7 linked regions of the Homo sapiens genome follow. The protein of the gene in region 3 purifies or fractionates together with the protein of the main gene of each other region. This does not show direct contact. Each region holds a gene or a part of one and is shown on either strand. Other genes may lie near its edges.

Region 1 (3,500 bases), on a different chromosome or scaffold from region 3:
AAGTGTGCCTTCCTGATTGTAACATAGCCACATTTAATCCTTGTTGAGTACTTACGATGGGCAAGGCATTATTCTACATCTGTCCATCCATATGTTAACTTACATAATCCTCCCAGCAACCCTGTGAGATAGGTACTGTCATTATCATTATCTCCATTTTACAGATGAAGAAACTGAGGCACAGAAAGGCTAAGCAGTTGAAATTTGTTTTATTCCTACTCCCACACACCTTGCTAAGAAGTGTCTTACATGTTAGTGAGTCAACCAGGTAATAAGTGGAGCAATCAAAGTGCATCTGCCCCTAGTGCCTGTGCCACTAACCACGGAGCAGCCTTCCATGCTGCCTTAAGCGAGCCACTCTGTATCTGAAGGAAACCGCATTAGAGCTGTCTGCATGGTTGCTTAACAAATGACTTTTTATATTCTCCAGATTGTACGAACAGATCTGAAAGAGTTAAGAGATTTCAATTTGGATGGTGCTCCTTATGGTTACACTCCTTTCTGTGACAGCCGAAGAGAAATGGACGGCTACAGGTTCTGGAAGTCAGGGTACTGGGCCAGTCATTTAGCCGGGCGAAAGTATCATATCAGGTACTGAAAAGAAGCACTCCTAACACTGTTACGGGGTTTTCCTTAAAATTGATTTTGTGTGGTTAAAATTGTGAATAGGTAATACATTGGTATGGTTGAAAAATAAAAATGATAAAAAATACACAGTGGCTGGGTGCAGTGGCTCATGCCTTAATCCCAGCACTTTGGGATGCCAAGGCAGGTGGATCACCTGAGGTCAGGATTTCAAGACCAGCCTGGCCAACATGGCGAAACCCCGTCTCTACTAAAAATACAAAAATTAGCTGGGCATGGTGGTGGGCGCCTGTAATCCCAGCTACTCGGGAGGCTAAGGCAGGAGAATTGCTTGAACCCAGGAGGCGGAGGTTGCAGTGAGCTGAGATCACGCCGCTGCACTCCAGCCTGGATGACAGAGTGAGATTCCATCTCAAAAAAAAAAAAAAATACAGTGTAAAAAAAACTTCCTAATCCTGTCTCTCTCTTTCCTACTCAGTTCCTGTTCTCACAGCAGATAACCTCCCAACTTATTGACTGTCTATCCTTCCAGATTTTCTTAATTCTTACAGAAACAGCTGTGAATGTGTATTCTTTTTTTTTTTACACAAAATATGCTACCTATTTATACATTTTGTAACTTGGCTTTTTTTTTTTTTTTTTTACTTAATGTCATATACATCTTCTCAGTGAATAGAGAGAGACCTGATTCCTTTTCATAGCTGCATATTATTCCAGTGTGTGAGTGTTATTTATAGTTTTCCCTGTGACCTACAATGTTGCAATGAATAATCTACTAAATAATTTTTCATATCTCATATATTTGTGAGATAAATTCCTAGACGTAGACCTTTTAGGTCGAACAGTGTGTGTGTTGTTACATTTCTAATGAGCACCCCATTCTCTTCTCTGCGAGAAGTGTGATTTGAAGATGTGCAGGGAAGAGGAACGTGTAGGAAGCGGCACATGCAGAGATCACTGCTGGGGTTTAGTGATGGTGGCTTCATTCTTTACATTCCTGGTCCAAAAGAACTGTAAGGACTGTAACACTCTGGGGTTTTCCCCCCCCTGTAACATTGAAGACATCATCAGGATATCATTGAATAATGGTTGTTTATCAGTTACTATGGCTTTTGTTACTGCCGCATATGCTAGAAATCTTTGGTCTGAGATTATTTCTTTCGGATGGCAAATACAGAACAGTAACAAAAGCATAGCACAGTATAGATTTTGCAGTGACTTTCTTAGAGATCTTTAAAGTAGCACACTTTAACTCCACTGTAGGGCTGTAGCATACCTTTTCAAAGAAAAGCCAGAATATTTGGCTAGTGGCCTGTTCCATTATTCATTGGGTTTAGTTTTCCTGTCGTAATCCATGGTTGGTTGTAACAAGCGGGTCTTCTTTATTCAGTGCACTATATGTTGTGGATCTGAAGAAGTTTAGGAAAATAGCTGCTGGTGACAGACTCAGGGGACAGTACCAAGGTCTGAGTCAGGACCCTAACAGCCTTTCAAATCTTGATCAAGTAAGTGTCCATTTTTTATGGTTAACTGTGAGTGACGGGTATACAGTGTTGCATCAGAAAATGAAGTATTACTTGTGTCTTCAGTCCTCTCCTCACAGGATGGCGTCTTGTTTTTTCATGGTGTGTGTGTGTGTGTGTGTGTGTGTGTGAGAGAGAGAGAGAGAGAGAGAGATTTTTATCTGCCCTCAAGACATATCAGCGTGAAAAATGTCATAGATTTGATGCTGGCTGGGGAGAGAGATGGAAGGAGAATGCTGCCTCTCTGAACCATTAGCATATCTTTGTATTTTGTACTCAAACTAATCTCATAGGTTTGTTTCTCTACCTACTAGGGTCAGTTTGTTTTTCTGCTGTAGGAACTAAATAGCTCAGGATTCGTAGTATAGAATCACAGTATAGTATCACAGCTTCCCCTTTTTCTATGTCAGAAACCATGATGTGTTTCAAGGCTAGCTAAATTACTGTTTGTTAATGTTAAGCATTTTTCAGAGGTGAGATTGTAGTTTAAGGGTTTTGGATACATATTTCACATATTTTAAGCATTTTATTTTGCTTAAGTCTACTTAAATGTTTTTAAACCTTTATTGTGATATGTAGCATCCATAAAGAAAAGTATACAAAAAACATACATACATATTCACATACATCCAGGAATTATTATGAAGCAAATACCCAGATACCACAACCTAGTTCAAGAACTAGAACATTATCAGCATCCCAGAAGCCATCCTTCCTCCCTAACAAAAGTGTCTAGCATCACGACTTTTATGGTAATCATTTTTGTTTCTTTATAGATTTACTGTTTAAGCATGTATCCATAAACACTAGTTTAATTTGCTCATTTTCTTCTCCTCTATCTCAATGGAATAATAAAAGGTAAACTTTTTTGTTTGTTTGTTTGTTTTGAGACAGAATCTCACTCTGTTTCCCAGGCTGGAGTGCAGTGGCATGCTCTGGGTTGCACTCACTGCAACCTCCACCTCCCGGGTTCAAGTGATCCTCCTGCCTCAGCCTCCTGAGTAACTAGGATTACAGGCACGCACCACCACTCCTGGCTAATTTTTGTATTTTCAGTAGAGACAGGGTTTCACCATGTTGGCCAGGCTGGTCTCAAACTCCTGACCTCAAGTGATCCACCCGCTTTGGCCTCCCAAAGTGCCGGGATTACAATCACGAGCCACAGTGCCCGGCTCTACTTACTTTAAAATTTGTGTGATACCTGGTATCTTCTAATTTATGGAGCTACTATGGATCTGATTCTGTTGTATTATTTCTGTTATTCTTTTGTTCATACTGTCTATCACATATTTGTTTATCTTCTGTAGTGTGTCAGGCGTTGTTTTTGCAGAATTATTTTGGGGAATAATTTGAGTTCAAAAATGGTATCACCCAACAGTATTTGTTTCTCTC
Region 2 (3,340 bases), on a different chromosome or scaffold from region 3:
AATATATATGTATGTGTGTACATATCTGTTGTGGACATGCATACATATGTTTCATGTACTTTGTCCATATTCCACAATAAGAAAATATACAAATGACCAGTAAATATGAAAAGACATTCAATCTCACTAGTAATTAGAAAAATAAAATAACCATGATCAGCTATCATGATTTGCTGAAAATGTAAAAGACTGATAATATCCCTCTTTGCTGAGGTTGCAAAGAAATAGGCATTCTCATATGCTGTCAAAGGAAAGTAAATTAATAACTCTTTTTGAAGAACAATGTGGCAATATGTATAAAAACATAAAGCTTGTCTTAAAAGTTTTCAATTGCAATTCCAAATATCTATCCTAATGAAATTCACATGCACTAAAGATATGTGTACAAAGATGTCTGCCATTCACTACAGCATTGTTTGCAGTAGTGAAAAAAATGAATAAATATCAATAAGGGAAGATTTATGAAAAGTATTATAACCCATACAATGAAATACTATGCAGCCATTAAAAATAAAACTTTATAAACTGACATGGAAAGATATCCAAAACACATTAAGTGAACAAAAGCAAGACACAGAATAACACACACATAACATAATCCTGTTTCTAAAATATAAATATGTACATATATTTCTATAGAGTTATGAAAAACAGACTACATATTCATGCTGTAACCTGTTAGCAGTGATTACCTCTGGGCCAGGAAGTGGTGGAGGTAGAAGGAGGGTAAGCGGGACACTTTCCCATCTCACTCTAGATACATACATAGGATTCTTTTGTAATCACATATCCATGGACTACTTATATATTTCTAACAAGTGGTAGTAGCAAAACAACTGTATTATTATTTGTTCCACTCCCATGAGACCAATCTAATACATTTGAAAATAACTTGCTTTCAAAGCTAATTCTTTTGTTCCTGGAGGGCCTCCAGGGAGCCTACAGTTGCAGTCACAGGGCTGTCAGCCATCAATCGAGGAGCACTGTGCAGGATACTAAGTAACTTGGTCTGTCTCCAGGCTCGCCTCTTGAAAATATTTGCATACATTCTCATATCCCAGCTTACTGGCAGTAGCAATAATGTCTTCCCAGAGCACTTTGGTAAGGTAAATAAATTCTGATACTGCACATCAAATCACATCCATATCAAAGTGTAGATGTGGCTGTCAAGATCTATGTTTAGATCCAAATTAGTAATCACGCCCTTGATGAGTGACTTTTAGAACAGTTTGCATTTGGATTCCAAAGTAAGAACCTAGACCCCACTAAATCACCATATAGAGCTTTTCTTCTCTTTCTTCTTCCCTCCCTTCACTCTGCGCTAGCCCTTTCTAAAACTAATTTTTCTGTTTTCTATAAAGGTGGAAGAAAGGGCGAACCCGATCATGAGTTATTTGCAATCAGTAGTCAATCAGAACAAAAAGTATTATCAGTATATTTACAAAGAAAAATCCAACTACATGTATACATTTTGGTGTGCATTTTATTTTTGACTGGAATCATATCCATATGAAGGGAAATTGTGAAAGTATCCTTTACTCTTTTGAAAGCTTGGCCTTTGCCTTACTGTGTCAAAGGAAAGCAAAACTAAGCCAGTAATGATGGAGATGTCCCTGTTTCCATATGCACACTGACAGGCGAGGAGCTGCCTAGGAAATGCTTTTTGATTGATGAACAGAGGAGGGTCTACACACATTAAATACAAATGGAAACACATCAGCACACACAAGTCATTAGCCTGGTCCTCTGGCATCCACTGGCATGCATCTTTCCAAAGTATCACTTATTCAGTGGTAGCAGCACTATGTCTCGTTATGCCTTTTATCAGCAAATACCTTTTTATTCCAGAATGGAAAACAAACTAGGAATTAAATACATCCAATATTGATGCTTTATTTCCATAAGTCACCAATAAGAGAATGAATTTAATTTTAATACATTTATTTTTGTGTGATTCTTAATAAAACACTTTCAAAACATTCTGTACATTTCAAGCCACTCAGAACCGCATTACATTTCTACAAATGTGATTTGTTGGGATGAGGTGCCAAGATGTCTCTGTACAAAGATGTACAATATGTACAATCACTGTAAGTGCAAGCTGTGCAAAGCAGAGTCTAGAACACTAATTCATGCCAAGGCTTACAAAAACATTTCAACACATAAGACTAAAGCTTGAAACAGCGTTGTGGTTTTTTCCCTGGGCAAATGATTATTTTATAAACAAGTATATGTATATGTCATACAGAAAGAAGAGTTTGACTCCTCAGCTCAGTCAGTACCATGCAGCTGACTGGATACATTACAGGGCTGCTCTCCTAGGCCTCTTTCTTCAAGGCGCCATTTTGCCACACTCAACAGTTGTCTCATCACTGAGTGGCTGCCACTGCTGCCTTTGGCTGAACCACAGCAACACTAGGAGACTTAAATTTCGGGAGATAAAGGCCAAATTTGTTTTCGATGCCTGCAAACGTGGCTGTGGCGAGTCTGTATCCACCGATGTGATCAGGGTTGGCAGGAGGAAGGTCTGCAATGCGTGACTTAGGTGTTGGTTCTGAACCAGCGGGTTTGCTGTTGACAGAAAAAAAGCCAATGGTTAGCATGCTCAAGGTGGATGAGCGCAGCTTACAGCTGGACATTTTCGGTCTGACCCATGTGCCACAAAGAAGAATGTTTCTCTCAACCATTTCCATGGCATCTGTGCTGCATGACTAGAAACCACAGTCATGATTTATAGCTGCTTTGACAGCAACTTATCTACATATTTGATTTACAAGAGAAATGGCCTTATTTCCAATGCTTGCATACATATATAAACAAATCCATAGGAAAAAAGTCAGAAGAAAAGACACTCAAATATGAAGACTCTCTGGGTAGTAAGATTATGGATGATTTTTTTCTTTTTTCTTCTTGTAAAGATGGGGTCTTGCTATGTTGCCAAAGCTGGTTTCGAACTTCTGGTCTAAGGAATCCTTCTGCCTTGGCCTCCCAGAGCACTGGGAGGTGTGAGCCACCACACCCAGGCTGGTTTTTTTCTTTTATGCTTTATGGTTTTCCAAATTTTCTGCACTTAGCACATATGAAAGTAATTTTTAAAGTATATATTTTTCTTTTGACATAACTTTAGAAGTTAACTTTTTATGTAGTAGACTCATAAAGATTATCAATTAAATTATTTAAAGAGAGATAGGCCGGGCATGGTGGCTCACGCCTGTAATCCCAGAACTTTGGGAGGCCGAGGCAGGCGGATCATGAGGTCAGGAGATCAAGGCTATCCTGGCTAACACGGTGAGACCCCGTCTCTACTAAAAATATTAAAAAAAAAAAAAATTAGCCAGGC
Region 3 (4,281 bases):
ATGAAAGCCCTGCCAAGTGGCAGGAGGCCCAGCTGGGGCTGCCCCTCATAAGAGTGCAGTGGAGGATATGGGATGAGAAGTGACTGCCCCTCTGGTTCCATCTGTCGCAGAGCCCAGGGTGCTTCCTTCCTCCCCCACCTCCCTCAGAACACACCCACTGCATGCTGGACAGCAGCCCCCTTCCTGGGCCTGGGGACATCCATGTCCCTCTGTGCACAGGCTTCATCATTCTCTGGGTGCACGGTAACGACCCCGGTAGGTGAGAGGCCAAGGTCCCAAAGGGGAGCAGCAGGGAAAGTTAGCTCCCATCTATTCTTGCTCCAGGGGAGGCCTTTGATGAGGAAGCTGCCAAAAGCACATTGCAAATACAATTCCAATTACAGGCAACAGGAAGGAGAACCACCTCTGCCACCTCTGTCAGCAAACCATGAGCTCCTACTCTGTGCTGCGATGGCGGGCTCGATGGGGATAACTCTGACCTTACCTCATGGAGTCACTGTCAACCCACTGGTTGCACTGTCTTTGTGCACTGGCTCTCTGGAGTGAGGTCTTTGCAAACAAAGTGGAAAGAGCATCAACTTTGGACTCCAGCACCTAGATTCAGAGCAGGCCATTTCACTCGGAATCTGCTGTGCATCTGCAAGGGAGGATCATAAATTCGCCTTTGTTTCTTCCCAGTATCGACAGCCCTTCCAGAAAGAGCAAGCCTCATGTCATGCCACATGTACAATCTGAGGCCAGGAGCTCTCTTTCCCCTTTTCATCCTCCTGCCTGGTACACAATAGGTGTTTACTGGATGCTTGTCCAGTTGATTTCTTGAACATGGTGTGTAAAAGGAATCTTTGCAAATTGAATCTTCTGGAAAGCTGAGCTTGTGCCTACCATAGAATTCTGAATGTACCTATATGACGTCTTTGCAAACTTAAAACCTGAATCTTTGTAGTATAAATCCCTTGAAATGCATGTAGGCTGGACATCAAAAGCAAGCAATCTCTTCAAGGAGCAGCTAGTTGGTAAGGTCAGTGTGCAGGGTGCATAAAGGGCAGAGGCCGGAGGGGGTCCAGGCTAAGTTTAGAAGGCTGCCAGGTTAAGGCCAGTGGAAAGAATTCGGTGGGCAGCGAGGAGTCCACAGTAGGATTGATTCAGAAGTCTCACTGGTCAGCAGGAGACAAGGTGGACCCAGGAAACACTGAAAAGGTGGGCCCGGCAGAACTTGGAGTCTGGCATCCCACGCAGGGTGAGAGGCGGGAGAGGAGGAGCCCCTAGGGCGCCGGCCTGCCTTCCAGCCCAGTTAGGATTTGGGAGTTTTTTCTTCCCTCTGCGCGTAATCTGACGCTGTTTGGGGAGGGCGAGGCCGAAACCTGATCCTCCAGTCCGGGGGTTCCGTTAATGTTTAATCAGATAGGATCGTCCGATGGGGCTCTGGTGGCGTGATCTGCGCGCCCCAGGCGTCAAGCACCCACACCCTAGAAGGTTTCCGCAGCGACGTCGAGGCGCTCATGGTTGCAGGCGGGCGCCGCCGTTCAGTTCAGGGTCTGAGCCTGGAGGAGTGAGCCAGGCAGTGAGACTGGCTCGGGCGGGCCGGGACGCGTCGTTGCAGCAGCGGCTCCCAGCTCCCAGCCAGGATTCCGCGCGCCCCTTCACGCGCCCTGCTCCTGAACTTCAGCTCCTGCACAGTCCTCCCCACCGCAAGGCTCAAGGCGCCGCCGGCGTGGACCGCGCACGGCCTCTAGGTCTCCTCGCCAGGACAGCAACCTCTCCCCTGGCCCTCATGGGCACCGTCAGCTCCAGGCGGTCCTGGTGGCCGCTGCCACTGCTGCTGCTGCTGCTGCTGCTCCTGGGTCCCGCGGGCGCCCGTGCGCAGGAGGACGAGGACGGCGACTACGAGGAGCTGGTGCTAGCCTTGCGTTCCGAGGAGGACGGCCTGGCCGAAGCACCCGAGCACGGAACCACAGCCACCTTCCACCGCTGCGCCAAGGTGCGGGTGTAGGGATGGGAGGCCGGGGCGAACCCGCAGCCGGGACGGTGCGGTGCTGTTTCCTCTCGGGCCTCAGTTTCCCCCCATGTAAGAGAGGAAGTGGAGTGCAGGTCGCCGAGGGCTCTTCGCTTGGCACGATCTTGGGGACTGCAGGCAAGGCGGCGGGGGAGGACGGGTAGTGGGGAGCACGGTGGAGAGCGGGGACGGCCGGCTCTTTGGGGACTTGCTGGGGCGTGCGGCTGCGCTATTCAGTGGGAAGGTTCGCGGGGTTGGGAGACCCGGAGGCCGAGGAAGGGCGAGCAGAGCACTGCCAGGATATCCTGCCCAGATTTCCCAGTTTCTGCCTCGCCGCGGCACAGGTGGGTGAAGGAGTGAATGCCTGGAACGTACTGGGAACTGCACCAGGCACAGAGAAAGCGGGCTTGCCATTATAGTGGGTTCCGATTTGGTTTGGAAAACATGGGCAGCGGAGGGTGGAGGGCCTGGAGAGAAGGCCCTACCCGAGACAGGGGCGGGGTGGGAAGGACGGCAGATGCTGGGAGCACGAGGCAATTTCTTTATGACACAGAACTCATGCTCTAGTATTCCATCTGTTTCAGCCGAAGAAAAGAACCAGCTGAAGGGGCAGGGGAGAAGGGGCGGAGGTATTCTCGAGGCCCATTGGCGTCCTTTAGGACTCAGGCAGGGAAGGGCCCTTGGTGCTCTGGAGCCGGAGGTGGTGCGCCTGGTACTGGGACCCCGGAGCTGAGCCCGGCGCCTCAGCCCACCTGGCTGTCTGCCGACCGTGTGCGGGGCGAGTTTGCTCAACAACTCTGCCAGCTTCTGGCCCTCAGGCTGTGGGAAGCTTCTTCCCGGGGCGAGACCACTAGCTTTTTCTAAGTATTACCAGCCCAGGACTTGGCTGAGGTTCTGTGTCCCCCAGCTTGGAGTCAGATGTGGGGTTGAATCTTGGCTTCCTCTCACTAGCTGTGGTGCTTGACAAGTCACTTATCCTTGAGCCTCCATTGCCTAATCTTTAAAAGGGAGGTGACAATCGTCCCTACGGCTCAGTGGCAGCAGATGGGGAGATGAAGGGAAAGTTCTGTTGACCATGAGTGAACTTACAATGCAAGCCCCGGGGGGATCACTTGCAGTTTTGTCCCTGTCTGCAGTGTGACCTGTTGGTGACATTGTCTTTGCTCCAAACCACAGCTCCTGGGGCAGAGGGGAAAATTCTGCCACTCACAGCTGCCTGCCCACGCTTCTGTCTGAGTGTGCTGGGTGGCAGGATGGCAAGTCCTTACTCAGCTCAGTATAGCCCTCTTCCTTGTTCCCTGAGCCTTTGACTTTCTCGAGGGATGTTGTGGGGTTGTGGCCAGGATAAGAAAGGGCATTTCAAGTTACCACTGCTCCAAAACAACTGTTCTGGAAATAGTGAGTACCCCATCCTGAGAGGTGAGTAAGCAGAGGCTGTATGACCACCTGAACCAAGCCCTTGAGGATGTTTCTTCTCTGGTGGAAGTTTGGAACAGGAGCCTCCTCAAGTTCATTTATTCATTCATTCAATGGTTATTTTGTGGGAATCGAATTTAGAATGAAAATATTTTTTGGCAAGCAGAAAATAATTTTTAGACCAATCCTTTTCTTTTAGTCATGAGAAACTGAGGCCCAGAGAGAGGAGGTCACCCCAGGTGCATTAGAACTGGGTTTCCAGAACTGACACTCCACTGCACAGAGTACTCTCCCAATTCATTCAATTTTTATTTAGCGGAAGGCATTTTCAGATGGGTCTTTGAAGCATTAGTAGGAGTTCAGCGATGATGGTGTCATGAGAATTTTATTCTAGGATTAGGAGGTACCATGAACAAAGATACAGAGCTGGGAAAACCAGAGGTGGAAGATAAGGAGCACATGTCCACAGTTCTTTTTCTTTTTTTTTTGAGATGGAGTTTCGCTCTTGTTGCCCAGGCTGGAGTGCAATGGTGCAGTCTCAGCTCACTGCAACATCTGTCTCCCGGGTTCAAGTGGTTCTCCTGCCTCAGCCTCCCAAGAAGCTGGGATTACAGGTACCTGCCACCACGCCCGGCTAATTTTTGTATTTTTAGTAGAGAAGGGGTTTCACCACGTTGGCCAGGCTAGTCGCAAACTCCTGACCTCCTCAGTGGATCCGAGGAGGTGATCCTCCCGCCTCAGCCTCCCAAAGTGCTCGAATTACAGGTGTGAGCCACCACGCCTGGCCTCCACAGTTCTTTATCCACCGTCTGAAATGTAAAATGTTACGAAAACCAAAAGTTTTTTTTGTGATTTATTTGATGGTAGCACCT
Region 4 (3,500 bases), on a different chromosome or scaffold from region 3:
AGGGCCTCAATCTGTTCATCTGATTTTCTAGAACACACAAACTTCTGCACTCCAGATCATCAACTTGACCACACGACACTGAAAAATATGATACCGCCTGTCTACAGAAGTACCTGAAGACTCCTGGGAGCTGAACAGTACATTTAAAAAAGATTATTTCCCCTTGAATTACCAAAGCAATTGTTAGAAAAATAAAGAAGAAAGTGACAACTGGATGCAATCCCCCGCCCCGCCCCCGGAGCTGCTGTGCTCTGGTTGCTGAGCCTGTGGTATCAGGGAAAGAGGAGCACAGGCTCGTCTCCTCAGGGTCACGGGGGAAAGACAGCCAGGCTGAGTTCACCAACTCCCCCAATTCCCAGCATACGTTCTCTGGGAGCAGTGCCACAACCAGCTCTTCTCAGTCAGTGGTGCAAGCCGTGGGAGGTGGAGTCTCGGGCAGAGCCTTACCATGCCGGAGCCGCCACAGTAGTGGCAATGCTGCACCTTGGTGCCGGGCTCGTTCCCCTTGCCGTTGCAGCGCTCACACGTGTCCATGATGTTCACGGTGAACTCCTTGTTGACCCCCTTTGCAGCTTGATTGAATGTCAACTCCATGAAGTACTAAAGAAACCAAGGGACAGCCTGTCAACTTTTGTTTGCAACGACCAAAACTGACGCTCGGCTCTAAAGGGAAAGGAGGGTACTGGCCCACATTTTCAGTCACTCTTTCACCACTGTACTTACTTGCACTCTGCCAAGTAAGCATAGGTAGGACTCACTGAACGAATTCTGCCCTACTCTTTGGGATTTTTAAGAGATAATGTATGACTTAAATGAAAACGTACTTTCAACAGACTGAAAATGTTCACAGATAAATACTCGTACATGGCACTTAAAAACAGCCTGAATGATCCACAATCATAATTTAGATCATAAATATATCCCCTCTCTCTTCCACTCTGACAGTGTCTTATAAGGACATAAATGAGAGAGGATCAGCAGTGCCTTCCCACCGGACAGAACTCTCCTGGAATACTGTAGCAGATGAGAGACAACACTCACACCCTCATGGGCTCTGAAAGCCTTAGGTGCTACCTCATTATGCAACTGTTAAGAATACCATCAGAATGGACATACTCATTACTACCTATGCGATTTTTCAAATACTGAAATTATTTTCTACTAAAATGGCTGCCTCCAGATCACTCCATTTAAGCTGCCTTGCCTTTCTGAGAAACAGAAACTGATAAAAAAATTTGTTTGACCCATACTTAGTCTAAAATTTGAATAATTCTTCCAAGTGAGGAACTTACTTCCTGAGGCTGATCAAACACGGTCTGGAAATCTCCAAATGAAGAGGATGAGAACTCGCCAAAGATCTTCCTGAACAGCTCCTCGGGGTCCACAGTGGGGCCTCCCTTCCAGTAGCTATGCTGGGAGCCGCTGGCCCCAGGATCGAAGCCTGCAGAGCCGTAGGCATCGTACTGCTTCCTCTTCACCTCATCACTCAAAACCTACAGTGAAAGGCAGAGCCACTGGGCATCCCAGGTCTACCAAGGCCCAGGAATACAGACAAGAGTTCACAGCAAATAAGGCAGCCATAACATTTATTAAGTGGCCCTGTGTGCAAACACATCCTATGAGGTTGGGGTGGGCCTGTGACTAGCACCTAGAAGAGGGATGAGATGACCAAACTGAATGCTAAGTGTAGGGCGTGAAGTGCTTCCAAAAGTCTCACGAACTCTCCCGCCGTCGCGCATGCTGGGAAAATGTTTGTGTTGATCCTCGCTTGACCTCACAGGCACCCTGGATTCTTCACAGATTCACACTTCACCTCTCTCCTCAGGGGACATTACCTCGTAGAGAATTTATGCTTCCTACCCTTACCTTCATCGAAAGGTTTTCTGCAAGCCAGAACAACCGGAGTAACAGAAGTAACAGCAACGACAATAGCAGTGGTGCAATCCTAGCTCACTGCAGCCTCAACCTCCCAGGTTGAAGCAATCCTCCTGCCTCAGCCTCCACAGTAGCTGGGTCTACAGGTGCACACCACCAGTCCTGGCAAATTGTTTTAAGTTTTTGTAGAGACAGGGTCTTGCTATGTTGCCCAGGCTGCTTTCAAACTCCTGGCCTCAAGCGATCCTCCCACTTCGACCTCCCAAAATACTGGGATTACAGGCATGAGCCACTGGGCCTGGCCCACAAAACTGTTAATAAGGACTAACTACCTCAAAAAGGGGGATTAGGGAGGGACAAGGAAAAATGTAGTATTCACTTTGTATCTTTTTTTTTTTTTTTGAGACGGGAGTCTTGCTCTGTCGCCAGGCTGGAGTGCAGTGGCGCGATCTCGGCTCACTGCAACCTCTGCCTCTCGGGTTCAAGTGATTCTCCTGCCTCAGCCTCCCGAGTAGTTGGGACTAAAGACATGCACCACCACGCCCAGCTAATTTTTTTGTATTTTTAGTAGAGACAGGGTTTCACCACGTTTGCCAGGATGGTCTCGATCTCTTGACCTCGTGATCCGTCTGCCTCAGCCTCCCAAAGTGCTGGGATTACAAGCGTGAGCCACCGTGCCTGGCCCTCACTTTGTATCTTTTTTTTATGTGTTTGTCTTACTTTTTTTTTCTTTAATTAAAAAGACACTGCCCTAGGCTGAGTATGGTGGCTCACACCTGTAATCCCAGGACTTTGGGAGGCCAAGGCAGGTGGACTGCTTGAGTTCATGAGTTCAAGACCAGCCTGGGCAACATGGTGAAACCCCATCACAAGAAAAATACAAAAAAATTAACCAAGAATGGTGGTGCACGCCTATAGTTCCAGCTACTTGGGAGGCTGAGGTGGGAGGATTGCTTGAGCACGGAGGTTGAGGTTGAGGCTGCAGTGAACCGTGATTGCACCATTGCACTCCAGCCTGGGCAACAAAGTGAGACACTATCTCAAAAAAATAGGCACTATCCTTAAGGCCAAACAGAAAAGAGTACGCTTCCTCCAAAGGAAAAGACACTTCCACCTAGAATGGAGGGGGACTAAGAAAGCAGGTGGAGGACAGCTTGGTGCCTAGGGTAACTTTTAGGGCACCCAGTTAAGATGCAAAGGAGGAAGGCTGGCAGAGGAGGAGTCAGGTGGGAGTTCATGACTTCCTGGTGGGTTTTATCTCCTGGTTCCAGCCCTTCCCAAGGAATTGCTGCTCTTAGGTTCTGAGGCTCGGTCCGTTTAATAACATCCCCCTTGAAGACAGAAGTCAGCAACACGGTGGATTAGGACTCTCCAAAACTCATGCCCCTGGCAGAAACATCAGATCAACTAACCATGTGGAAAAACACATTCACAAGAATAACACCCCCCCGCCCCATTAAAAATTGAATCTTCTGGGTGCAGTGGGGAACCTGTAGTCCCAGCTACTCAGGAAGTTGAGGTTGAGGCAGGAAAACTGCTTGAGCCCAAGAGTTTGAGACTGCAGTGAGCTGTGATCTCGCCACTACACTCCAGCCTAGGTAACAGAGTGAGACCTCAACTCTTTT
Region 5 (3,500 bases), on a different chromosome or scaffold from region 3:
ACTTGCCCATCTATTATATTTAAATGCTCCGTTAATTGATTTGATAGACTACCTTTCATTTTTTTAGACTTGACACTTCCCTAACCCATTGGGCTCCAGATTTAGAAATAACTATATAACCTTTTTTTTGTATTCTCGGGATTTGATTGATTTGTCAATTTTTAAATTTTACTCTTGTCAACTTGCAAAAACATTTTAAAATGTATTACAGCAATACACTGCAGAAATTTTAAGAAATGTATATAACCCCAGAAGGAAACTTAAGTCAACATTATGGTAATCTCTTTTCAGATTTTGCTGTTTATAAATGGGTCTACTATTATACTGTACTGTGGTATGATACCAATCTGGAACTGTTAATATTTGAACATATTTCCATATTAATATACAAATCTACATTAACATAAGTGGCTGCAATAGGATTCTATCATGTGACTCATGATACTGGCCTCTCTGACCCCCAGGGTTCCACCCAAGAATGTAGTACATTGAAAGGTAAAAATAAGTTTCCTTGGCCAGTTGTTGAACTTAATAAATCTGTGTTTACCCCTTAGTGGGCCCATGCCTAAGGTTTATACTTTGAGGTGTTCTTGATACCAATAGCATACAGAGTAAGTCTTAACGTTGTTGATAGGTTCTTGGAAACTGGGACTTCTAGCAGAATGACCTCAAATAATGTCATGCAGGTCCTCAAATAATGTCATGTCACTGTAACACAGCTGAGGGGAAAAAAATTGGTCTTGTTATGTGTCATTTCATTTAAAGCAATTTCCAAGAACCTATCAACAATGGACTGTAAGTGAGAACTTGAAATTAATGCCCTAACTATATAGCAAGTGAAGGCATTTGTGCTGTGCCTACTCTTACTCTGTATTCAGGAAAACCTAGCTGAGTTTAATTGCTTCCCTAGCATAACAAGTTATTTTGCCTCAATACACGATTAAAGACAGATTGTTTAATTTTGTCAGTGTATGATACTGATAGCGCTTTAAGTCCTTATTTAAGAGGTACGTACTGAAGTATTTGTGGGTTAATGGATATAGTTGGAGTTTGCTTGAAAGTATATGTGGGGGGCATGCGTAGGGGTGTAATACATGAAATATTAGTCATGAGTTAGTAACTGCTGAAGCCAAATTGGATGGATATGTAGGAATTCATTGTACTGTTGGCTCTGTTTATACAGGATTAATATTTTCCATACGTAAAGGTGAAACATGATTGCTCTGTTAGGTAACCAGAGTGATCTTGGGAAATAATCAGGAGATAACTGCTTTGGTGTAATACTCTACAAACACAGGTTTTCTTACATGAGTTATGTTCTAAGAGACGTTGCCCAAACCCTTACTGAACTAAAATATGTGGGTCAGAGGTGAGGGGCACGAAGTCTCAGTTTAAAAAAAAAAAAAAAGGCGTGTTTTTTTGCCCTGTTAGAAAATACTCCTCCCCTTGTATTTTACGGACCACATGGGCTAAGGGAGTGTCTAGCACTGATTGTTTTGTTTGCTTGTTTAATTTAAATGAGACAAGGTCTGGAACTCCTGTGCTCCAGGGTGCTATCCTCAGGGTATCCTCCTGACTCGGCCTCTCAAAGTATAATTACCCTTTTTTTAAGGGGACTATACTGAATAGTTCTTTAAAATACGGATTTTCAGGCACAGGGGCTCAGGTCTGTAATCCGAACACTATAGGATGCCGAGGCAGGATCCCTTGAGCCCAGTAGTTCAAGACCAGCCTGAGCGACATGAGAACCCCCATCTCTATTAAAAAAAAAAAAATTCAAAAATTAGCTGGTCTGTGGTCCTGGCTACTCGGGAGGCTGAGGTGGGAGGATCACTTGAGCCCAGGAGATGGAGGCTGCAGTGAGCCATGTTTGTGCCACTGCACTCCAGCCTAGGCAACAGAGCAAGATCCTATCTCAAGAGAAGATTATAGATTTAAAATTTTTTTAGTTTTATATATAAATACTACAATAGAAGGGTCTTGATTTACATTGCTGTTAGACTTTTAATAGAAGTAATTTGATGTGTTATAAGTAATGAAACTGAAATACTTAATTAACATTTTTTGGTTATAACCAGTGTTAGCCAGTCATGGTTTAGTACCAGCATATACCTGTTGAGTTAATACTCTAAATATTGCTAATGAGGTGTAGGTGTCTGTGGGAAAGTTGAAACTTGGAAAGGATATGCAGCTTACTTCCCCAGGGTAATCCAGCCAGTGAATAGCAGCTCTGAGATTTGAAGGCTAGTCTCTTTGCCTCTGGAGTTTGTGTTCTCCACTATGATACCTTTCTTCAGGAGCAAATTGGACTGAACTACTTAAGTGGGCTTTCTTAGTCATTTCTGTGATTTTTATGCATAAACAAACATCTATGTATAGATTTTATGATTCTGACCTTAGTTGGATATTTAATAAAAGTACAAAATTAATGTTTTGTTTTTAGGCATGAAAGATGGCCAGAAGATAACATTCCATGGTGAAGGAGACCAAGAACCAGGACTGGAGCCAGGCGATATTATCATTGTGTTAGATCAGAAGGACCATGCTGTTTTTACTCGGTAAAGACTTTTATCAACCACTCAAATTGATATCACATATTTGGGTTGTTGGTTTTGTTTTTTGTTTTTTTGTTTTTTTTAAAGTGTTTTCCATTACTCTTAGAACCTATTTCTCAGGAAGATTGTTAACCATTGTTCAGATCATAAGAGGTTGAATACATAGGATCAGATTTTTAGCTTTTTGTCTCTAAGTATGGAACGTTGAAAATGTGTTTCAATTAGATGTTTTGTGTGAACCTAAGCAGCAGATGGGTGGGGAAAACATCCCTGGACAAAAATTTGCCCTCAATCTTTGTAAAGCAATTTAAGTGCCTTAAAGCTCTCACCAGTTTTCAATCTCATTTATGATAAATTGAATTGCTTTTAATTATAAATATCCAAAAGCATCTCTGTAGGAAACTTAAATTGTAACTCAATACTAAGTATAAATTCAGGTCTACCATTTTGAGCTAAATAATGAGTATGATGAACACTGAAGCACAAGAAAGATGGATGATTAACAGCAAATGTTTGTGATCCATGGCTAACATAACACCCTCTGTGCATGCTATATTCCCAGCAACTTGGGAGGCTGAGGTGGGAGGATCACTTGAGGCCAGGAGTCCTAGCTACTGGGGAGGCTGAGGCAGAAGAGTGGCTTGAACTCAGGAGTTCAAGGTTATGATCATGCCACTGCATTCTAGCCTGGGTGACAGTAAGAACCCACCTTTTTTTTTTTTTTTTTTTAATGGAGTGGAGGTGAAATTGGGAACATCTTAAACTAGTTTAGGATTAATTAATATTTCAGCTTGGTTTGGTGGCTTACGCCTGTAATCCCAACACTTTAGGAGGCCGAGGTGGATGGTCAGGAGTTCAAGACCAGCCTAGCCAACATGGTGAAATGCCATCTCTGTTAAAAATTAAAAAATTAGCCAGGCATGGTGGCAGGCCCTGAGGCAGGAG
Region 6 (3,500 bases), on a different chromosome or scaffold from region 3:
CCGGTATCAGTGCAGCTGTTGTACTCCTTGCCATTGAACAAGAAGGGGAACTTGCAGTACTCCCCATCGGCGTTCCCATACTTCACACGGACCACTAAAGAGTGACATGGAAGGGGGAGGTTGGACTTCTCCAGGCCTTCTTTGGAGACCAAGATTCTGACTCACCCAGATGTGTGACTTTCCTCCCCTCCCACCTCTCTGGTCCAAGCAAATGGAGTGGAGAGAGGACAGGAGAGAAGGTCTGGGGCATGCAGAGGGCCCCTTTCTCACCTTGGCCTTCTCCCAAGGTCCATAGCTCATCGTCATCAAAATGGGAGTCTCCCCCAACACCAGTGCCTGGGGCGAAGGCATGAGCCAGGAGTCCGTCCTTACCGTCAAAGGGGTATCCATCGCCATGCTCTGAAACACACACTGGGTCTTAGCGTCTAGCTGTGCCACCTAGACCCTGAAACCCCTCCACACCCCATCTACATGTGGAGCCTGTCAGCCCACCCAGCATCTGTCCCCTTCCCTTGTCCCAGTGGGGTTATCCAGGACTGTCAACAGGAGCTCAGTAGAGATCTGCTGACCTGGTTGTTACCATCCTATGGTCTACACTGCTCTCCCAGGTTTACATGACTCCCAGTATCCATACCCTCTACCTCCATTGTCTACTCTACCACCATGACACTATATGTACCACATACCCACATTACCACACTAGTGTCCTCACCCCATCTTCATCATCCCCAGTGTCTATGCCATCCTCCATCCTGTCAATACTGCCCTCTTAACCACAATCCTGCCTTCATGTCACACTATCACCAATATCTGCAACATGAATCCTCATGCCCACCTTGTCACCAAGGCCTGTACCACCCACCCACTTGTCTACATTGTTTCCCCTGCTCTTTACCTTCATCACTTACCACTCAGTGTCTATACCACATACCTTTATGTCTGTGCTACTGGCAGTGTTCACACCATAAACTCACATGGCCACCTGGCCCCAGGTTCTACGACCCTTCCTCTAGTGTCTACACTGCTCCACTGTTTCCAAACCACTCTCATATATCTACAGTTCCTCAGTGTCTACCAGCATCATCCAACAGAGCTTTCTGTGATTAAGAGGAATATTCTTTGTCTGTGCTGTCCAAAATCAATAGTCACTAGCCTCCTGTGTCTTTTGAGCACTTAAAATGTGCCCAGTGTGACCAGGAAACTAATTTAAAATTTTTAACTAATTTAAATTTAAACAGCCATGTATATTCTGCCTAATGGCTGCCATATTGGACAGCACAGTAGACCACTTGCTTCGGGTTTAGACGGCCTCCAGGTTATACCACAACACACCATCTGCCCCCATGTCAACGTGGCTCTCCAGTGTCCACTCCGTGTTGTGCTGCCCCCATCTAAACCACCCCCAGGGCCCACACCATCTACTGTCCTATCTAAGCCGCCCTTAGGATCCCCACGCCCCTCTAATGTCCATCTCACCCCCTCGTCTCAACACTGATCCCTGCTGGCCCCTCTTCTGCCCCATCTTCTGCCTACCCCAGCGGCCAAAGTTGATCATGATGTCTGCCTCTCCATCATGGATTCGAGAAAACCGCAGTGGGGTCACATCGCTCCAGACTTGGAAGGCACGAGCAAAGGCATCATCCACTGTCTCTGGGTCCAGATCAGGTGTGTAGCCAATGATCCTGGAGGTGGTAGAACTGCATGTGAGTGTGTATGCATGTGCATAAGTGTATGTATATGCAAGTATGTGTGTGTGCACAGATGTATGAAAAAGTTTGAGTGTGTGTGTGTATGTGAACATACAAGTATATGCACAAGCACGGGAAGGGTGCACAGGTATGTGTATGTATATGTGAGCATGTGCCTGCGTGTATGTGTGTGTAGGCTGGGCAGGGCTCACTGCCAAGGACAACCCTCCCAGAATGCCTTGAAGACCCAGGGAGTCCCAGGCCAGCCAACATTTTTAGGCCCCAGCTCAGGAGTTCCATCTGTCACTTCTGGCTGGTGGGGGAGGGCCATAAGTAGTGCATTATGGGGCACAGGGCAAAGATCCCACCATTGGAACCCAGCACCACCCATACAGAGCACAGCTCTTGGCCCAATTAGCAACCAGTTATAACCCAATTGGGCTGCTAAACCCAATTAGCTACCAATCATCACGTTCCTTCTGCCCATCCCAATGACCTCATCTAAAAACAATAACAATGACTAGCATTACTACACTCTTGCTCTGTGTCAAAAATCATAGAAGCCGTTTGTATTAGTTCAGCCTAGCTTAGTTCCCCAACATACCATATAAGGGCATTTTTTAAGCCCCATTTTGTAGATTGGAAAGCCAACATTCACAGCACTGAAAAGTAACCCAATGTCTCATGGCCAGCAAGTATGAAACTCAAGTCTGTCTGACTTCATTTTCTAAGAACTGTGTATTGAAACTCCCTAAGATGTCAAGCCTTCACAAAAGACACCTCATGGATCCCCTGAGTGGAGAGAATGCATGGGTCAAGGAGACTCGTGTCCCTCAGCCCCATGGCCCTGCCTCCCCAAGCCCTGCCCCGGCACCTGTATGTGATCTGGTTCTTGTCCCACTTGGGCTTGCGAGGGAAGAAGTTGTAGTTGGCCACATCTGGGTTGCCGCAGCGTGGCTTCCGCATGGTCTCGATGGTATTCTGGTCAAGATCACCTGTCTGGGGCAGTCCAAAGAACTTCTGCATCTTCTTTAGTGTGTCCTTCAGCACAAACAGGTTGCAGCTCTCCTTGGGGCAGCCATAGAAGGTGTTCAGGTATTGCTGAAAGAAATGCACACCCCCAAGGCAATTAGCCACATTAGGATGGCACAGTACTGACCAAAGCAGGCTGTAGCAATCAGCCCCCCAACCCAGTGCCATAGTCCAGACAGGAAATAAGCCAGGGGTCCCAGAGCACTGGGTGGAGTACTGGGTTCCCAAACCAGCACGGTCACCCATTAGTTGAGCGACAGGACATACAGCTATAGAGAGCATGGCTACCACTTGTTGGTGCTGGGTGCTGACTATATGTCCAGGCACTAAAGTCAGAATATGTTAACTCATTTAATGCTCAAAACTCTGTAATGTAGATATACTAACCCTATTATACAGAGGAGGAAACTGAAGCACAGAGAGGTTAAGAAACTTGCTTACGATCACACAGTTCACAAATGGTAGATCTGGATTTGGGACAAAGCAATCTGGCTCCAGAGGCTGTGATATGGAATCATTATACTCCAGCATCCTTCCTTTACCTCTATCAACTCATTTATCTACCTTGCGGCTGGTGACTTGGGGACTTTTTTCCTCCTGTTTTCTTCTAAAGAGATTCAAGGACTATGTGCATGGGCTCTGGCAGTAGACAGACCTGGGTTTAAATCCTGAATCAGCCATTTGCAAAAAGAAAGTAGTCCTGTCCTTCATGAGTCATACAACTGGCCCTGCCCAAACTGAGGCCCAAACTGAGCAGGTCCCTGCAGAGGTTCAGGGAGC
Region 7 (3,500 bases), on a different chromosome or scaffold from region 3:
CTTGAATAATGCAGCAAAGCTCTATTTCTCAATAGCAGAATGTATTTCCAAATGATATCCTGATAATCTTGACAGTACAGATTCTATGGAACACATTTTAATAATACCATTTATAATCGTTCAGGTTCCTCACTGGAAACTAAGAAAAAAGATATCAGAGCTTTACATTCAATGAGACAACACTTGTAAAATACTTTGTAAACTACCAAATACAATATACATATTGTATAAATTATGTTCCTTAAGACAGAAACTGAAATTGGCAAACATTTAATTTTAAAATATAGCAAAGTCAATGGTGTTTTTTTTGCCAGGCACTGTGGCTCACGCCTGTAATCCCAGCACTGTGGGAGGCTGAGGTGGGCAGATCACCTAAGGTCAGGAGTTCAAGACCAGCCTGGCCAACATGGCGAAACCCCGTCTCTACTAAAAATACAAAAATTAGCCAGACATGGGAGCGGGTGCCTGTAGTCCCAGCTACTCGGGAGGCTGAGGCAGGAGAACTGCTTGAGCCCAGGAGGCAGAGGTTGCAGTGAGCCGAGACTGCACCCTTGCACTCCAGCCTGGGCAACAGAGTGAGACTCCATCTCAAAAAAAAAAATTCATAATCCAAAATGTTTATTATTACAGAAGACTAGTGAGATGGCACCTTGTAAAACAAGACTTAAAATGTTCTGCAAATTCTACATACTGTTATTTTCTCTACTATTTAACTTGTCATAATGTTTCACAAATTTAAAAAATGCTAACTTTATCCCTTACCATTCCAGACCGAAAAATGAAGAGGCTGGGATAGCTGTTGACTCCTTTCATTCGGCAAAGCATTCTATCATCACCACAGTTAACAGCTCCAATTCGAAGTAACCCATCCACTTCTTTAGCAAAGTCTCTCCACTATGACAGAAAAAGAAAACATATTTCTCTGATAAGACCACTTTTCTTCCCTTGAACACACTCCAAGCTATATATTTTTAAACCAGACATTTAAAGTATTTGATAATTATTTTTGATTACTATTCATAGAAAAAAAAATTCTAACATATAAATTGCAGATCAATTAGAAATAAAACTAGTAATGAGGATGTGAAAAATACATACTGTGGGAGCTAAATCATGGCAGTGTGAACAGCCTGGGGAGTAAAAATTTACAAACCACAGTTCTCCAGAATTAACAGCAGCATCTAAAAATACATAAAATGCAAACAACTTAGAATTATTTATTAAAGGTTCATGCATATTTTAGTTAAAAACTTTTTGTGGAGATCAGAATTTTAAAAAGTCATGCAATTTTCATATTGTCTTTCTCATTTTCTGTGTGATGTTTTTCTATATCTTCTACATAAATGACATTTTTAAAAAATTAAAAATTTTTTTTCCACAAGAAACATTTCAAATGTCAAACCAACAATAGCTTTTTAAAAAAACTCTCCTACGCCCATACTTGAAAAAGAAGCAGCCTCAAACTGCAAGATAAATATGGCCATAAAGTTGTAAAAAGTGACGGCACAAGAAATAGCAGCCAAACCTCACGTAAGAGTTTGTGTGCATGAGAGAAATAAAGAAGACAAATAGTAAGAGTGACTGAGATTTAAGCTCTTCTATTACATGCAGCACAGGTTAAGTAGGTTTAGTCAATTCTGACAGCTACTGTAAACTCTGAAAGAATAAAATAAGAGACCTACATAATACAGTAAGGATTGCGGGGATTAAATTTAATCTAAGCCCTAAACAAGACATTACCTTGGAAAATCATTTTGTTTGAAAAGGTTGAGGTTTTTAACAATTCAAAACATTAATACATATTTGCTAAAATTACAGATTTGAACAACATATAATATCTAGCCAATAGTACATTTTATATTTTATCTGTAAAATGACCTGATGCAAATTACAAATTTTACTCACTTAAAAAATTTAACATTGTAAAAATGTGCTTTCACATTCAAGATAAAAAGGCGAGGTTAATCTGCTTTTGGTTAAAGGATTTCCATATAATTCCATGTTAAAATTTATTATTTTAAAATAAAAATTTCAGAAATTACAGTAAGACATTAAATCACACATGGTATTCTAAATACGTGCAACTAATTCAGGCTAATTAGAAACAGGTGCAGGACTCAGTGTTCACCTACATTTCAAGTATAAGACAGACCTGTGGGAAAACAGTTAATCTACACATTACAGGCAAAGTGTGTAATTCAGGACTATGGGCTGTTCTTTGGCAATGTTTTCAAAGTCTGGCAAATGACCATTCTATAGAGGTGGTCGAAAAAATTGCCATATTGGTTTAGACCACAAACCAGTACAAATTTAGGTAAAAATATTAACAGAATTAATGCAAACTTTAATGAAAGAAGGGATTATCTTATCAGCTATAAACAAGTAATGAGGTAGTTATTTTTATATAAAAATAGAAAGCAATAATTACACAAGGTATTACTGTTCATAAGTCTTAAATAAAAATATGCTGTAAAACAAATTTGAATGGTATTTGACACAAAACCTTTCTTGTAGTAAAAATGTCTCCTACCCTGGTAACAGGCATACCTCAGATATTGTGGGTTTGTTTCCAAATCACAACATAGCAAGTATCACTATAAAGGAGTCACACAAATTTTCTGGTTTTCCAGTGCATATAAAAGTTATATTTACACTATATACAGTGTATTATGTAATAGCATTATGTCTAAAAAAAAAAAACAAACAAAACAATGTACATACCTTAATTAGAAAATAGGCTGGGCGCAGTGGCTCATGCTTGTCATCTAGCCTTTTGGGAGGCTGAGACAGGAGGATCACTTGAGCCCAGGAGTTTGAGACCAGCCTGGGAAACACAGCAAGACCCTGTCTCTATAAAAATAGCTGGACATGGTGGCACATGCCCGCAGTCTCAGCTAGTCGGGAGACTGAGGCAGCAGGATTGCTTGAGCCCAGGAGTTCAAGGCTGTGATGAGCTATGATCCTGCTGCTGCACTCTCCAGGTGGGGTGACAAACCAACCAAGGAACAAAAAATAACTTTATTGGTAAAAAATGCTAACAGTCATTTCAGCCTTTCAGCAAGTCATGCATGTCGTGATGTTGATGGGTGCTGACTGATCAGGGTGGTGGTTGTGTAAGGTTGGGGTGGCTGTGGCAATTTCTTAAAATGAGATGACAATGAAGTTTGCCACACTGATTGATGTCTCCTTTCCTGAAAGATTTTCTCTGAAGCGTGAAATGCTGTTTGATGGCATCTGACCCACAGTAGAACTTCTTTCAAAATTGGAGTCAAAACTGGCCTCAAACCCTGCTGCTGTTTTATCAACCAAGTTTATGTAATATTCTAAATCCTTTGTTGTCATATCAACATTGTTTACAGGATCTTCACCAGGAGTAGGTTCCATCTCAGGAAATCACTTTCTCTGCTCATCCATAAGGAACAACTCCTCACCGCCCCATGGTGAGATTATTATAATGAGATAATTATATTATAATGAGATCATTATAATGAGATTGCAGC

What was found.
Region 1: the proteins of PCSK9 (region 3) and UGGT1 purify together in Homo sapiens (affinity purification with western blotting; one study listed by BioGRID). This does not show direct contact.
Region 2: the proteins of PCSK9 (region 3) and SLC25A12 purify together in Homo sapiens (affinity purification with mass spectrometry, with the first as the bait; one study listed by BioGRID). This does not show direct contact.
Region 4: the proteins of PCSK9 (region 3) and DNAJA3 purify together in Homo sapiens (affinity purification with mass spectrometry, with the first as the bait; one study listed by BioGRID). This does not show direct contact.
Region 5: the proteins of PCSK9 (region 3) and DNAJA1 purify together in Homo sapiens (affinity purification with western blotting; one study listed by BioGRID). This does not show direct contact.
Region 6: the proteins of PCSK9 (region 3) and MMP2 fractionate together in Homo sapiens (co-fractionation; one study listed by IntAct). This does not show direct contact.
Region 7: the proteins of PCSK9 (region 3) and DNAJC10 purify together in Homo sapiens (affinity purification with mass spectrometry, with the first as the bait; one study listed by BioGRID). This does not show direct contact.

Annotation. Positions count from the first base shown.
Region 1 is NC_000002.12:128,181,700-128,185,199, forward strand, and holds part of UGGT1 (UDP-glucose:glycoprotein glucosyltransferase 1 precursor), read left to right. Parts: intron 1-430; coding exon 431-591; intron 592-1,975; coding exon 1,976-2,090; intron 2,091-3,500. UniProt on the Homo sapiens protein: Recognizes glycoproteins with minor folding defects. Reglucosylates single N-glycans near the misfolded part of the protein, thus providing quality control for protein folding in the endoplasmic reticulum.
Region 2 is NC_000002.12:171,782,905-171,786,244, forward strand, and holds the end of SLC25A12 (electrogenic aspartate/glutamate antiporter SLC25A12, mitochondrial), read right to left. Parts: intron 2,572-3,340; coding exon 2,370-2,571; 3' UTR 501-2,369; downstream 1-500. UniProt on the Homo sapiens protein: Mitochondrial electrogenic aspartate/glutamate antiporter that favors efflux of aspartate and entry of glutamate and proton within the mitochondria as part of the malate-aspartate shuttle.
Region 3 is NC_000001.11:55,038,067-55,042,347, forward strand, and holds the start of PCSK9 (proprotein convertase subtilisin/kexin type 9 isoform 1 preproprotein), read left to right. Parts: upstream 1-1,481; 5' UTR 1,482-1,771; coding exon 1,772-1,978; exon of another isoform or gene 1,979-2,337; intron 2,338-3,900; coding exon of another isoform or gene 3,901-4,023; intron 4,024-4,281.
Region 4 is NC_000016.10:4,439,368-4,442,867, reverse strand, and holds part of DNAJA3 (dnaJ homolog subfamily A member 3, mitochondrial), read right to left. Parts: intron 1,494-3,500; coding exon 1,293-1,493; intron 601-1,292; coding exon 448-600; intron 1-447. UniProt on the Homo sapiens protein: Modulates apoptotic signal transduction or effector structures within the mitochondrial matrix. Affect cytochrome C release from the mitochondria and caspase 3 activation, but not caspase 8 activation.
Region 5 is NC_000009.12:33,031,773-33,035,272, forward strand, and holds part of DNAJA1 (dnaJ homolog subfamily A member 1), read left to right. Parts: intron 1-2,443; coding exon 2,444-2,558; intron 2,559-3,500.
Region 6 is NC_000016.10:55,482,198-55,485,697, reverse strand, and holds part of MMP2 (72 kDa type IV collagenase isoform 1 preproprotein), read right to left. Parts: intron 2,790-3,500; coding exon 2,563-2,789; intron 1,683-2,562; coding exon 1,534-1,682; intron 400-1,533; coding exon 271-399; intron 95-270; coding exon 1-94.
Region 7 is NC_000002.12:182,726,257-182,729,756, reverse strand, and holds part of DNAJC10 (dnaJ homolog subfamily C member 10 isoform 1 precursor), read right to left. Parts: intron 1,182-3,500; coding exon 1,099-1,181; intron 895-1,098; coding exon 763-894; intron 1-762. UniProt on the Homo sapiens protein: Endoplasmic reticulum disulfide reductase involved both in the correct folding of proteins and degradation of misfolded proteins.